Linked DNA regions of Homo sapiens: all the other regions are linked to region 1. The links come from fine-mapping of genetic effects on gene expression. A gene starts in region 1. Each other region holds a variant in brackets. All regions are shown on one strand. Distances are from middle to middle. Region 1 holds the start of TRIM14 (tripartite motif containing 14). Region 2 holds the start of NANS (N-acetylneuraminate synthase). Region 3 overlaps TRIM14 (tripartite motif containing 14).

Region 1 (5,224 bases):
AGAAGAGAATAATTCACCCAATGTGTATGGGTATCACAGGCATAGTCTGATGGTGAATCCTTGGTTTGGCTTTTTAGCTGTAAGGCTTTTAAAAGTCAAATCCAGGCCAGGCGTGGTGTTTCACGCCTATAATCCCAGCACTTTGGAAGGCTGAGGCAAGAGGATCACTTGAGCCCAGGAATTCTAGACCAGCCTGGACAACATGGTGAAACCCCGTCTCTACAAAAAAAATACAAAAAAAAAATTAGCCAGGTGTGGTGGTGCATACCTATAGTCCCAGCTACTTGGGAGGCCAAGGTAGGAGGATTGCTTGACCCTGGGAGGTGGAGGTTGCAGTGAGCCACGATCATGCCATTGCACTCTAGTCTGGGTGACAGAGTGAGACCCTGTGTCTCAAAAAAAAAAAAAAAAAAGTCAAATCCAAAATTCCTTATGAAAGTTCCAATAATGCAAATTATCAGGCCAAGTGTAATATTAAAACTTACTTTGCAAGTAAATTTGTCCTATCAAGACTCATTTTTGGTAAAAACAGGGAACTAGAGAGAGAAAAATTATGTTTCAGAAGAAAATCTTAGCACACCTGTTATGCACACCTGTTATTCCTGTTATTAGATTCCAGCCCTGGCCATTGTTTTTTAGTTTTTATTTTCCTGCAATTTGGACTAAATCCTGAATTATTTCCTGGCTACAACAAGGAAGGTTGTAGAAAAAGTTTTAGAAGCCAATTCCTGGCTTTTAAAGAAGGCTTGGGATTTTCTTCGTGATGTTTTTAGTTGACTCCCCAGTGGAATAGGTTTGGTGTTGTTCTGCCATAGAGATTCTCTGTTTTATTTATTTATTTATTTATTTATTTATTTATTTATTTAAGACAAAGTCTCACTCTGTCATCCAGGCTGGAGTGCGGTGGCGTGATCTCGGCTCATTGCAACCTCCATCTCCCAGGTTCAAGCGATTCTCATGCCTCAGCCTCCTGAGTAGCTGGGATTACAGATGTGTACCACCACACCTGGCTGATTTTCATATTTTTTAATAGAGACGGGGTTTCCCCATGTTGGCCAGGCCTCAAACCCTTGGCCTCATGTGATCCTCCTGCCTCAGCCTCCCAAAGTGCTGGGATTACAGGCATGAGCCACTGTGCCCGACTGCTTATGTCATTTTAATGTAAATTCTTGGTAAACAATTTAGGAACTGCTTCTTCTTTTTTCCTTAAAAACTTATATGTAACTGCTGCTAATCAGAGTGGATAGTCACAGAAATTTGAATCTATGGTCCCAGTTGGCCATCCTCAAGCTTTAGGCTTGGATAAACTCTGTACTTAATCATATTTTCTGAATCTTATTACTTCAAGTTGACAGTAGGTAGTGGGTAGGGGGATGGACAAATGGATGGGTGAGACTCTTGAGCCAGATCTGTGGAAAGCAGCCTTGTTAATTCTGAATAACAGTTTTTCAAGGAGCCATTATTATAATTACAGCCATTTCATACGTTAAAAAAAGGAAGGGTCTGGTGGCAGGGACAGGTCTTGAGCCCACGACTCCACTGGATTGTCCCCCATGATCCCCTTTTCACCTTGGAGTTCCAAGGTTGTCACAGTGTGGTGGTCTGGAGTCATGCAGTACCGGAGAAAGGCTCACGATGGGGCTGAATTCATCACAGAAGACTTCTTGGAGACAAGTGGTAGGATCAACAGCTGTCAGACATGAGGGCCTACCTCACCCAGGCTTCATGAAACCCAGAGAGAGAGAAGGATTTGAGAGAAGCCACAGAAAAAGTCAGCTGGGAAGCTGGAGCAGGAGCCCAGAGCCCCTGGGGCACTGTTAGGATTATGCATGGGTAAGGGTTCCACGGTGACAATGGCCCTGTTGGGGGCATCTGGCTAATGGAGTCCTGGGTTCAAGGCCTGCCCCTGCCTCCAGAGCCTTCCTCTTGTGGCCTATAAAATGGCTGTAATAATAATGGCTCACCCAGGGCTGCTATGAGCAGGAATGGGAGTGTCTGTGTGGCCGGGGAGGGGAGAGGAGGTAGGTAGTGACAGCTGAGGCTGCTCCCAGGGCAGTCAGGCCGTCCTCAGCTCAAAGTTCACAGGCCCTTTCTGTGGACTGCAGATTAAGTAAACCTGAGATGTCTGTGTGGCTTTCTGAGCTACACAGGGCTGTTTATTAAGAGGGAGAGTTTGTACCTCTGTTAACTAAAAGGCAGACTGTCTTCCAGCCCAATGGCAGTGTGGCGGATCGGCCATGGTGGACACGGTCAAGGACATCTGGGTACCAGCCTGGGCTCCCAACCTCTCACTCCTAAACCCACCTTTTCTGAAGCTCAACTGATGGCTTTGGCTCGCCTTTGCCCTTCCTTGGGTCTCAGGCTCCCGCTCTGAACTTTCGGTCGACCGCTTAGACGCCCTCTGGGGCACCTTTGGTTTCCAGGTTGTAACCCGCCACTGGCCACGGCCAGGCACGCCCCCTCCTCGGCCGTTATGCCTGGGCTGGCTCCCCCAACTCCCGCGCGGCGAACCCCGTCCCCATCGTCCCCACCTGCACGTGCACCGCTGCCTCCAGCGCCAGGCCCACAGGGTGGCCACGGTGCGCGCCCAGCACCGGGCAAAGCGCGCACACGCAGCGGCGGCAGCGGCGACAGAAGAGCTCAGCCACGCGGTCGCCATGCTCCGGGCAGCGCCAGCCGCATCCCTCGACAAGCTCCGACCTCCCAGGGGTCCGGCTCCCGGTCGCCGCGCCCGCCATTCATCTCCACCTCCTCCGGCTCCCCGGGACACAGGGCGGGGCTCCCAAGGGAAACCGAAACCTCGGCCGTGGGCGGGGCGGCTCCAGGCCGGCCGGCCGACCCCTAGGAGGATGACAGCCCGCCGGGAGCAGCGTCGGGCCTCGGAGCATCCTCCGACCAGCAGGGTGCTCCCTCTGCCCGCCCAGGCCGGGAGGTGGTCCCACCAGAAATGGGAAGCTCCTAATGAGCCAGCTAGGAGAGGGTGGGCTTCCTGCTTAATGACGCTGTTCCAGTAACGCCCAGAAAACTGCAGCCCTGATGATGGGACCAAAGTTGGCTGTGACCTTCCGGGGGTGCTCCTCTCACTTTCCCTTGATCCTCTCTTGCCCTTTTCCCCGGAAAGATAATCATTCCCACAACTGTAAGATACCTTCATCAACCTCAAATAAGGACACAGAGATTCTCCAATTGAGTTTATTTCGGACTGAGCAGAAGGATTGCAATTCGGGAATAAATGTGCCATGGCACCCAAGGGGTGGGGACGCGGAGTACTCAGGGAGGCAAAGGAAAGCAGAGGCTTTTAAAGGCAAAACGAGGAGGATTGCATATACTGTTTTTTTTGTTTGTTTGTTTGTTTTTGTTTTTTTTTTTTTTTTTTTTTTTTGGAGACGGAGTCTCGGTCTGTCGCCCAGGCTGGAGTGCAGTGGCGCCATCTCTGCTCACTGCAAGCTCCGCCTCCCGGGTTCACGCCATTCTCCTGCTTCAGCCTCCCGAGTAGCTGGAACTACAGGCGCCCGCCACCACGCCCGGCTAATTTTTTGTATTTTTAGTAGAAAAGGGGTTTCACTGTTTTAGCCAGGATGGTCTCGATCTCCTGACCCCGTGATCTGCCCGCCTCGGCCTCCCAAAGTGCTGGGATTACAGGCGTGATCCACCGCGCCCGGCCAGATCGTTTTAAAATAATAATACTTGGTTACAAGAATTAATACAGGTGGCTTCAGTCCAAAAGTTGAACAGGCAGTTGCTGGGCAGATGTCCTCATATCATGGCTTTTGTGCAAGGTTGTGGTTCTTTGTGCAAGGTTGCAGTTTGGTGGAATCTTTTGCAATAATAGTTCCTGTTACCAGGCAAATCGTTGATGAGGGCCCCCCACTTCATGGCCTCCCAGCACCATTTAGTTTGTTTGAGACAGGATCTCGCTCTGTTGCCCAGGCTGGAGTGCAATAGTGCGATCATAGCTCACTGCAGCCTCTAACTCCTGGGCTCAAGTGATCTTCCCACCTCATCTCTGGAGTAGCTGGGACTACAGGAGCACCATTTAGTTTGGTTTTGATGTAAGTGACTCTGTTTTGGTACTGACAACTTTCACACACACACCACCACCCCAAATTCCAGTTGCCCCCCCAGGCTCAAGTCTAGACTTCCACTTATAAAGCCCTCAGCTCTTTCTTAAGATCCTTGGTCTCCGCCCTGCCTATGCTCCACCCTGTGCTTTTTCAAGACTGGGGGACGTGCAGTTTACCCTGCTTGGAACATTCTTCTTCCCAAATGCCCTTTGCCCTGAGTATTCCAACTTACTCTGCAGGTTTCTACCTTACTATCTTTTCCTCCAGGAAGCCTTCCCTCCTTCTCCTTCCAGAACAGCCTATGCTTTCCCTATCCTGGCCCTCCCCATTCCCGCAGCCATGACTGAAAACTGGAGAGGGCAAAGACTGTCTGTTCTGCCTGTTTTCCAGCTTGGTGTCTGACTCCAAGAGTAGATAGTTAATTGGTATTTGTGGAACAAATCAAGAAAAGGAAAGCTCCTTGTAGTAAAATGGCCAGATGTTTATTATTTTGTTACATTATTTCCATTGCATATTCCACATCTATTTATTTTCACTTTTATTTATTATCATTATTTTTCACAAAGGTACAAGGAATTTCAGAAACAACATTAAAACAATCATTCAAACTGTTTCAGGCACGGTTTCAATTAAAAGCATAGATTTGATTTCTGACTTCCTGTTTCCTTCTATGATACAATCTCAAGTTTTGTTTCAGGAAGCACAATTATTGTAGCGTTAAGGTGGATACCTGCCAAAGCTCATCTCCTAGTGCTGTCCTCATTCTCAGAAAGTTCCTGAGTCAACAGAAAGGGGACGCCCAGGGTATGGAATAAGGAGATGAGAGCATGCTCTGCCAACTGGCTGGGACCTGAATGTGCTAGGCAAGTTCCACTACATCAGCTCAAGAACATAAACAAAAATGTAATTTAAAAAACAGATGGTTTAAAAAAATATCTGATAAAAATTACCTATCCCTCTCCCTTGCTGTGAAATAATTTAAATAATTTATTCTAGATGTAAAAATAATAATACAAAAAAGTTTGTTCAAAGACACCTGTGTCCTGTTTGTTAAGTGTGCAGTCTGGGTCCCTTGGGGTGGAGGGAGCTGGCCAAGGAATGGCATTGTGCAGAGGCATACCGGGAAGCTCTCTGGATGCAACCCCACCTCTACCGCTTGG
Region 2 (5,207 bases), 61 kb before region 1:
GGATCAGAGGTTTTTGGGGTTTTTGTTTGTTTGTTTTTGAAATGGAGTTTCGCTCTTGTTGCCCAGGCTGGAGTGCAATGGCACAATCTCAGCTCACTGCAACCTCCGCCTCCCAGGTTTAAGCGATTCTCCTACCTCAGCCTCCCAAGTAGTTGGGATTACAGGCATGCACCACCATACCTGGCTCATTTTGTATTTTTAGTAGAGACAGGGTTTCACCATGTTGGCAAGGCTGGTCTCGAACTCCTGACCTCAGGTGATCCACCCGCCTCAGCCTCCCAAAGTGCTAGGATTACAGGTGTGAGCCACTATGCCCCACCTTGGAGATCAGAGTTTTTAAGGATAATGTGGTGGGTTAAGAGAGGCCAGTATGCCAGGAGTGCTGATTGGTTGTGTTGGAGATAAAATCATAGAAAGTCAAGGCTGTCTTCTTGTGCCAAGTCAGTTCCTGGTTGGGGGACACAAGATCAGATGAACCAGTTTATCAATCTGGTGGTGCCAGCTGATCCATCAAGTGCAGGGTCTGCAAAATATCTCAAGCACTGGTCTTAGGTTTTACAATAGTGATGTTATCCCCAGGAGCAATTTGGGGAGGGTCAGAATCTTGTAGCCTCCAGGTGCATGACTCCTACGTGTCTAATCTTGTGGCTAATTTGTTAGTCCTACAAAGGCAGTCTAGTTCCCAGGAAAGAAGGAGGTTTATTTTGGGAAATAACTTATCTTATTTTTTAAATTAATTAATTAATTTATTTATTTTTGAGACAGAGTCTTGCAGTGTCACCAGGCTGGAGTGCAGTGGTGTGATCTGGGCTCACTGCAACCTCCACCTCCCGGGTTCAAGCGATTCTCCTGCCTCAGCCTCTCGAGTAGCTGGGATTACAGGCACGCACCACCACGCCCGGCTAATTTTTTTGTATTTTTAGTAGAGACGGGGTTTCTCCATATTGGTCAGGCTGGTCTCGAACTCCTGACCTCAGGTGATCTGCCTGCCTTGGCCTCCCAAAGTGCTGGGATTACAGGTGTGAGCCACCGCGCCCGCCCAGGTGATTGTATTTTAAGAGCCTGGGGCTGGGAGGTCCGGGTACTAGTCCCATCTCTGCTTTGGCTTTCTGGATGGCTTTGGACAAGCCAGTGCAACTTCTCGAACCTGTTGCCTCTCATATAATAGGAACCTCCGCCACTTCTTGAAAACTTACTACAAGCCAAGTATTGTGATCAGGGGTTTCTATACGTCATCTCACAGTTCTATTTTATTTTTTTGCTTCAGAGAGAAACAAAAATAACGCTCCGGAAGACTGAGTAACGTATATATGAGCAGGAGCTGGTGACTGGCATAGGCTGGACTCGATCCAGCTCTGTGATTCTAACTCTAGCAACCCTGTTTTTTCCATTACACCATAGGGCGCGCTCTCCCCATGCTCCTGAGAGCAGGACATAGACTATGCCCTGCGCAGGCAGCCGTCCGCCTCCTGCAGGGAATGCTTGCTCCTGGGTGCACGCACGGATACCGCGATGGTCCGAGACCACGCTCTGGGACAGCAAGCCTCAAGCCTCGCACAGGAGAGGGCCGCGGAGCTTCCTCGACCCGCCCCGCCGCCCTTCCCGCGGGAGGCCCCGCCCCCGCCCCCCGCCCCGATTGGCTGTCGGGAGAGAGGCGGGGCCTAGGGGATTGGCTGCCCGGCGACCGCGGGCTGACGTGGCGGGGCTGGCGTGTGGGTCTCGCAGCGTTGCTCACAGAACAGAGTAGAGGCGGCGGCGGCGGCGGCCGGACCCAGACTGGTAGTGAGGCTTTGGACCCCGAGCCGCTGCAATGCCGCTGGAGCTGGAGCTGTGTCCCGGGCGCTGGGTGGGCGGGCAACACCCGTGCTTCATCATTGCCGAGATCGGCCAGAACCACCAGGGCGACCTGGACGTAGCCAAGCGCATGATCCGCATGGCCAAGGTGAGGCGGCAGCTCCCGGGACCCGGGATTCGGGCGCCGGGAGGGGCGGGGCGGGGCCGCGGGGAGCCAGGGCCACACGGCCTCCGCGGCTGGGTACCCTGGTCCGGCCTCTTCCCGCCCGCCAGTTCCGTTTTCGGAATCCTTCGGATCCCTCTTCCTCACCGTGTCCGCCACCCTCGTGACCTTTCTGCATTACAGCAGCTGCCTCCTAACCCGACCTGTTTCCTCCCCGTTCTGGTGCCAGAATAATCTTTCTAAAAGTCAGACTTGATCAGACCATCCCCCCTGCCTGGCACCTTCTGTGGCTCCCTCCTGCCCGCGGGTAGAGTCGAAACCCTTTAACATAGCCTTCAAGATTTTAATGACTGGGCCCCTTCCAGCCCGTCATAATTCTTCTCTGACATTCTTCAGCGACACAGAGTTACTTTCAGGAATGACAGTTCCTGGAAGTTGCTGTGGTCTCTCTCACCCGCCATTCCCTGTATATGAAATATGAAGTGGTTAAAAGCCGGGCCTTTGAGTTCAAATCTCAGTTCCACCACTACTAGCTGTGTGAACATGGGCTGCTTACTTAGCCTCCGTGAACCCTTTTCCCCATTTGAAAACGGGGCTTGAAAACAACAGTTCTTTCCACATGGAGTTGTTATGGGGATCAAATGAGATTCTCAGATAGAGCTCTGAGCCCAGCACTTGGCACACATGAGTCGGTAAATGCGT[G/A]CTCCCTCTTCTGTTGGGACTGCCATATTCTTCATTACGACCCCAGCCCCCAGCATAAGGCCTGGCCTGCACTATGATTCTTTGGTTTAGAGATAGCTCACCCCATCTTTCCTTTCCCTTCATCAATGCTACTCAACTGATTTTGTATCATTTGTGATAGGTTTTTTAAATGTTTATTTATTTATTTATCTATGTTAGAGACAGGGTCTTGCTCTGTCACCCAGGCTGGAGGTTTTCTCTTACTGTTTTTTTTTTTTTTTCCTGGTTTTTTTTTTTTTTTTTTTTGAGACAGGGTCTCTGTATCACCCAGGCTGGAGTGCAGTGGCATGATCCCGGCTCACTGCAACCTCTGCCTCCCAGGCTTAAGTGATTCTCCCACCTCAGCCTCCCGAGTAGCTGGGACCCACAGGCGTGAACCACCATGCTGGGCTAATTTTTTTGTAGAGATGGGGTTTGGCCATGTTACCCAGGCTGGTCTCGAACTCCTGAGCTCAAGCAATCTGCCCACCTTGGCCTCCGAAAGTGCTGGGATTACAGGTGTGAGCCACCACCCTCGGCCCTTGCTGTTCCTTCGGGACTGGTTTTATGGAAACCTAATCACTGAATCATAAAAATACTTTACAAAAATAACATTGCTAACATTTTTTGAGTGCTTACTCTACCAGGTACTAAGCTAAATGCTGTACATGCACCATCTCATTTAATTTTTACAACAACCCAATGCCATGATGCTGCCGATTTCATTTTAAAGGCTAAGAGAAAATAAGTGACTTAGGCAAGGTCACATAGCTAGTATAATAAATACAGTAAGGGGTTTTTTCAGTTTTTGCTCCTAAGCCACAGGACTCCAGCCTTTCTTCTGCAACATTGTTTTCTAGAGGGAAATTCCCACTCTTAATTTGAAGGAGCAGTCTGTTTTTCCTCTTGGAATGCCGAAGTTGTAGAAATATCTAGAGATACTGAAGCCATAGAAACAAAGCTGTACTGACCAGGTGCAGTGGCTGATTCCTGTAATCCCATCACTTTGGGAGGCTGAGGAAGGCAGATTGCTTGAGCTCAGGAATTCGAGACCAGCCTGGGCCACATAGCGAGACCCTGTCTCTAATTCCATTGAGCTGGAATCTAGGTGGCTGCAGCCTTTAGGAAAGGGATCTGGCCAGCTCTGCTAGAGACACTGTGCAACTTTAGTCAGGTCAGTCTGGGCCTTGGGATCTTCATCTAGACAATGAGAGCTCTGTTGCCCAAGGTCACTTTCAGTTCTAATGTTCTTTGAACTTTCCAGCATCAAGTCCTGACTCTACCATCTTATGATTTGTCTAAGAGCAGGAGTAGTGATCTCAGCACTGACATTTCTGGACCCAAGAAGTTTTTATTTTTTTTTTTCAAGACGGAGTCTCGCTGTGTCACCCAGGCTGGAGTGCAGTGGCGTGATCTCGGCTTACTGCAAGCTCCGCCTCCTGGGTTCACACCGTTCTCCTGTCTCAGCCTCCCGAGTAGCTGGGATTACAGGTGCCCACCACCACACCTAGCTAATTTTTTGTATTTTTAGTAGAGACGGGGTTTCACCATGTTAGCCAGGATGGTCTCGATCTCCTGACCTCGTGATCTGCCCACCTCGGCCTCCCAGAGTGCTGGGATTACAGGTGTGAGCCACTGCGCCCGGCAGCCAAGAAGTTTTTAATAGCATGAATACCTCTGTGTCTACAGAAATGGCCGTGAGATGGGACTTTAGTGGGTTTTAATTACTCTTTTTCTTGAGTAGATTGTTTTTGTTTGAGTCAAGGTCTCACTCTGTTGCTCAGGCTGGAGTGCAGTGGCACCATCATAGCTCATTGCCACCTCAACCTCTGGGGATCAAGCGATCCTCCCCCCTCAGCCTCCTGAGTAGCTGGGACTACAAGCGTATGCCACCATGCCTGGCTAATTTTTATATTTTTTGTAGAGACAGGGTCTTACTATGTTGCCGAGGCTGGTCTTGAACTCCTTGGTTCAAGCAATCCTCCCACCTTGGCCTCTCAAAGTGTTTGGATTATAGGCATGGGCCACTGTGCCTGACCTCTTGAGTGTTTTTTGTTTTTTTTTTTTTATAGTCAAACAATCCGGCTTTTATATTATTGCCTCTGCTCAGTAGAAGTCATCTAGGGGCTGGGGCATTTTTGTTTTGTTTGTCTGCTTTTTAACATGTAACCTGTTCAAAGAAAATGTCATGGAGAAAAGCGCCAGTGCAAAGCAGCTAAAAGCAGAGTTGCTATTGTTGAAATCAGAGAAAGAGGCATAGGGCACTGTCCCTGGATGTTCCTGTCCCTGAGAGGGCCTCATTAGGACAGTTTACACATCCTGGAGGTAGCCCAAACTGCTTTTATATCGATGGAGAAACTGAGTCCAGAGCTGGGAAGTGACTTATCTAAGAGTTAGGGTCAAAGTTAAACCAGAATTTTTCTTTACTAAATTCTGGTCCAGTGCTGAGTTGACTATTCTTTGCTCAGTTATATAACTTAAAATCTTCCTTAACTCTTTGATCCAATGTTTTTAATATTTACAATGCAAA
Region 3 (5,224 bases), 26 kb before region 1:
AGAAAATGCTGCTCATTATAACCACTTCTATTCAACAATGTTCTAAATGTAGTAGACAGTAACTCAAGGCACGAAAAAGAAGTGAAAGGAAAGAATAAAGATCGGGGAAATGAAAGATTATTATTCATAGGTGACATGCTTATTTACACAAAAACCCAAATAATCTGTAGATAGCTTAGAAGTACTAAGTGAATTTATAACAGCCACTCAGTATGTCAATATACAAAAATGGATAAATCTCATATTGAGTGAAAGAAGCAAAACACAGAAGGGTATAGTGTGAATGATCTACTGAAAGTTCAAAAACAGGTAAAACTAACCTATAGTCCTAGAAGTCTGGAGAGTGGATCCCCTTTGGGGATAGTAAACAAGAAGGCACATGAGGAAGACTTCTGGGGAGTGGAAATTTCCATTTCTTGATCTGAAGGTGGTTACAAAATATGTTTCCTTTTTAAAAAATCATTGAGCTGATTGATCTGCACATTTTTGATTTGTGCACTTTTTTTTTTTTTTTTTTTTTTAAGACGGAGTCTTGCTCTGTTGCCAGGCTGGAGTGCAGTAGTGCGACCTCGGCTCACTGCAACCTTCGCCTCCCGGGTTCAAGCGATTCTCCTGCCTCAGTCTCCTGAGCAGCTAGGACTACTGGTGCATGCCACCATGCCCAGCTAATTTTTGTATTTTTAGTGGAGACAGGGTTTCACCATGTTGTGCAGGCTGGTCTCGAACTGCTGACCTCAAGTGATCCACCTGCCTTGGGTTCCCAAAGTGCTGGGATTACAGGTGTGAGCCACCGTGCTCGGCCTTTAAATCAGTATGTTAGCCTTTGTATGGAAAATGTAAATTTATTCAGTGCCTCTGTTTTGATATTCACTGTCCCCCTCCCAACACCAGGGGCAGTGATCACCATTCTTTGGTTTCCCTCTGTCTCCTGATGGTTACTTTGCACTTGAATAAACTCTGCTAACTGGATACTGAGCCTTCTTTAGATTGAGTCTTTTTTAGGTTGACACCCAGTAATTCCACTTGAGAAATTACTCCTAAAAAATAATCTGAAAATGAGGTATGGTGTGTTCATTCTCTCATTCATTAATTCAATTCAACAAATGTGTACAAGAATGGATGTTTATTACAGCATTGTTTTAGAAATGAAAATGTAAACATCCAACATTATGAGATTGGCTAAATATGACACATCCATTCAATGCAATGCCATGCAACCTCTAAAAACAATGATAAAAATAAAAAATTAGCTGGGCATGGTGGCACACACTGATAGTCCCAGCTATGAGGGAGGCTGAGGTGGGAAAATCATTTGTGCCCAAGAGGTCGAGGCTGCAGTGAGCCATGACTGCACCACTGCACTCCAGAGCAAGACTCGGTCACACACACACACACACATAGTGATAATATTAGCTGGGCACAGTGGCTCACTGTATAAATCCCAAATATATATATGTTCATAATATATCAGTAAATGAAAACAGATGACAAAACAGTATGTATAGTATGACACCACGTTTGTAACATAAAAAGATATATTAAATATATCATTATATGCATATTAGATGTGCTAAAAAAGCTAAAAGGACAAATAATAATAGCAGTTATTCACAGAAGAGGGATTATGAGTAACTTTTTTCTTTCATTTTCTAATTTTTCTACAATGAACATGTATTGTTTTATTGCCTTTAATAATAAACATTTTTTAAAAAACAAGTTCTTAAAATAAATAAATAAATAAATTCTAATGAGAAAAAAAGAGGGACCTCCATTTCCATGATCCTCCTCCACCCAACATCCCACCATCTCCACCGTCTCCACCCTATCCCCACTCCCGGGGGTCTTACATTTCAGCAATAGCGATCGCTCTGGTGAGGGGCTGGTTTTCAACAAGGTACCTGGCTTGGTGCTGGAAGGGTCTGAGAGCTGGCAGTTTATGCCTGTAAGGAATTGTTGAGAAATGAGCGCCCGGAGCTTATGCAAGCAGACAAATAAGACGTGCTAAAAATACCACACAACTGGAGATTCGCATAATCTCGCCCAAGAGCCAGGCAGATTTAAGGGATTTATGTGAATTCACAGGGACAGGAAAACCCCAGGATGACAAGGCTGGTGTGGGAGAGTCCTAAATAGGAGGAGGAGCTGAGGCGCGAACAACTACTGGATCCAACACTCAAGGATGGGCGGCGACTCAGGGAAGATGTGCAGATTCCAGGGTAAAGATGGAAAACAAGAAAGTAGAGCTGAGTCCTCAGGAAGGTCTGAGTGCTCAGAAAGAAAGAAGGAGGGGAGTCTATCCCAACAAGCGGGCACAGCAGGGGCACCCAGGGCCCTTGGCACTTGCTGTGCCCTCTGCCTGGACAGCCCCCCCACACCCTTCCCCCCTTGCCCAGGTTGCCTCCTTCCCAGCTATTGGGGCCG[C/G]AGCTCACTCAGCACCTCCGCAGAAGTGCCTTCCGCCCCCATCACTCCCAGCACTCATCACAGGGGCCTGTAGAGATCTGTGGGAAGCCCACCTGCAGGCTGTTTAAATCAAGTTTTGCCTAAAGCTCCTCCTTACATCTTTTAAGTTCGGCCTACATATTTTTCTGTACGTCATGAACAATAACAAGTGGAGGTGTAAACAGACCGTAGCCTGCACTTGTGCCAATCACCAAGTTTTGGCCAATCAGATGTAGCCAACTGTTCAAATTGTGTTCAAATTAGGCGAACGCCGAGCTGTAACCAATCCAGCTGCTTCTGTACCTCACTTCTGTTTTCTGTACGTCGCTTTCCTTTTTCTGTCCCTAAATCTTCTTCCACCACGTGGCTGTGCTGGAGTCTCTGAGTGCACTGTGGCTCAGAGGGCTGCCGGATTCATGAATCGTTCATTGCTCATTTAAACTCCTTTAAATTTAATTTGGCTGAAGTTGTTCTTTCATCAAGGCAAAAGCCTCTCCCCTCTCCCCAGAACTCTAGAATCATAGGTCCTACTGCCGAGGCGATACCACCACATGGGAAGTCCAACTTCTCAAATCTAACAGGTTCACTTCATTCCCTCCAGTCCTAAATACTCTTTCTCACTTCAGAAAATGACAGTTTCCTTCTGCGAGTTGCCCACGTCCAAATCCTTGGATTCTGATCTCTTTCCTCTCTCCCCTGTGACCCTACGTCCACTCCTGTTGTCCCCATTGCTGCTCCTTCGATATGGCCAGCTCACTCCCATCGCGCCTCAGGACCTCCACCCTTGCTTTTCCCTCTGTCTAGAATACCTCCCCCAGACGTAACAGCAGCAGCAATCATAATCGCCAAGACATACGTGGTGCTTAATATGCCTGAGCGCTATATGTGTAAGAGCTCATTTAATCCTCACAGCAGCCCAGGAGAGGCGACTGCATTATGGTCTCCACTTTACAGATGCAGAAACAGAGGCATGGAAAAGGGAGGAGCCGTGTCTAAGATGGCAGGGTTCAGCAGGGTTCCAAGTGGTAGACCTCGGATAGGAACCCAGGAGGCCTAGCTCCAGAGGCCGTGCCTATGACCACTGTGCTCTCTGGCCCTTCAGACCCACAGAACCTGCAGAATGAATGCTTCCTTTGGGCCACCTTGAGTGTCCCCTTCTCAGAGGCCATCCCAACTGCTTATATAAAACAGCTCCTCCTCCTTGTCACTTTCCTGTCTTCCATCCTGCCCTGGTTTATTATTATTATTATTATTGTTATTTTTGAGACAGAGTCTTGCTCTGTCACCCAGGTTGAAGTACAGTGGCATGATCTCAACTCACTGCAACCTCCACCTCCCGGGTTCAAGCAATTCTCCTGCCTCAGCTTCCCGAGTAGCTGGGATTACAGGTGCATGCCACCATGCCTGGCTAATTTTTGTATTTGTAGTAGAGATGGGGTTTCACCATGTTGGCCAGGCTGGTCTCAAACTCCTGACCTCATCATCCACCCACCTCGGCCTCCCAAAGTGCTGGGATTACAGGCGTGAGCCACCACGCCCGGCCTTTATTATTCTTTATAGCAGTATAGCAGTTCCTGTCACCTGACATGTTTGTGTACGGTCTGTCTTCCCCTACGAAGACTGTGAGCACCAAAAGAGGAGAAGGAGCTTTGTTTTGTGCCCTGCTATGCCTGGCATATAAGAGGGGCTTGATAAATGTTCTGAATGAATCATGATAGCAGAGGTGAATGAATGAATGAATGCATAAATGAATCAAAGAACAGATATTTTTGAGTACATGTTTTGTGCCAGGCCCTGGGGGGACCTCAGAGTTGGACCTAAAGCTGGTTTCTGCCCTTCACGTGCTTACAAGGGGCAAGGAGGGGGGTCCATGTATCCACTTCATGAGCACCCTCTAGCAGGACATGGGCAGGCCCTGGAGCGGGAAGGGAGAGGGGAGATGGCTAAAGGAGAGAGTGAGTCAGGGCTGGGCTGGCAGGAAAGGGCTTCCCAGGTGGGCGCAGCTGTGCCAGTCTGCCTCGAAGGGGTGCCAGGCCTTGGCCCCAGCCAGAGGAAGAGAAGGAGGAAGAGTTGGTCATTCCAGCTGGGAGCCCAGAGCAAGGCTGAGATGTGGCAGGCTCCCAGGAGCAATCTGAGGGGCAGAAGCAGGGCAGTGTGACTGGAGAAGGGCAGGTCTCAGTCTCAGGAAGGGTTGGAGGTGAAGTGGTGAGGGTGGGTTGGGCACCAGGCCCAGGAGCCCCTGACCGCCCAGCCAAGGGCCTCAGTGTGGGAGAGACAGGATGTAGGGAGATGATCTTTGCATTCGTCTCTGGGCTAAAGGACACTAGGGGAGTTAAGGACACAAAGTTGGTCACTCGGCGACTTACTTTCCTTAAGGCGAATGTCCAATGGCGTCTGTAATGTACTCTCCACGGCTTCCACGAGGCCCTTAAAGAAGCTCTTGACGGGCTCAAAGGAGAGGGGCACGGGATGGCACAGCTCCCCGAGGCTCATCTGCTGCTGCATCTCCTGCTCGGTGGCCGTGTATGCCTGTGTGGGCACACGGGGGTGAGGGTGGCTCTGGGAGATGCAGGCAGCATCCCAGCCTCCTGTGCTGCACCCAGGAACAAACCCACACCAGCATGCCCAGGCTCCACGTTGGCCTGGCACCTATGGTCAGCCCAGGCCATGCCTGCAGGAGCAGAGCCCTGGAGAGACCATACGGCATCCCTGAGGTGGGAGCCATGCGGAGGTGCGGTTTTTCAGTGCTGGCACTGGGGATTCCTCCCTCTCCATCCTTCCTCCT

What was found. PIP is the estimated chance that this variant, and not a neighbour inherited with it, causes the effect.
Region 2: its variant is fine-mapped to the expression of TRIM14 in whole blood (TOPMed, PIP above 0.99).
Region 3: its variant is fine-mapped to the expression of TRIM14 in whole blood (TOPMed, PIP above 0.99).

The regions. Positions count from the first base shown.
Region 1 is chr9:98,116,451-98,121,674 of GRCh38, forward strand. TRIM14 (tripartite motif containing 14) reads right to left here and starts at 2,772. Exons shown (of 6, transcript NM_014788.4): 1 at 2,532-2,772. The coding sequence starts at 2,738. CORO2A (coronin 2A) reads right to left here. Exons shown (of 12, transcript NM_052820.4): 12 at 4,525-5,224. RefSeq lists an enhancer at 2,246-2,295 and a silencer at 2,606-2,705.
Region 2 is chr9:98,054,999-98,060,205 of GRCh38, forward strand. NANS (N-acetylneuraminate synthase) reads left to right here and starts at 1,734. Exons shown (of 6, transcript NM_018946.4): 1 at 1,734-1,942. The coding sequence starts at 1,811. It also overlaps a transcript of TRIM14 not described here. RefSeq lists enhancers at 1,243-1,292, 2,333-2,452 and silencers at 1,483-1,832, 1,913-2,082. The variant G/A (reference allele first, on the strand shown) is at 2,660.
Region 3 is chr9:98,090,062-98,095,285 of GRCh38, forward strand. TRIM14 (tripartite motif containing 14) reads right to left here. Exons shown (of 6, transcript NM_014788.4): 4 at 4,806-4,968; 5 at 1,848-1,940. Among named protein-coding and RNA genes, the nearest start is that of TRIM14, 27 kb to the right of the region's middle. RefSeq lists an enhancer at 591-1,150. The variant C/G (reference allele first, on the strand shown) is at 2,422.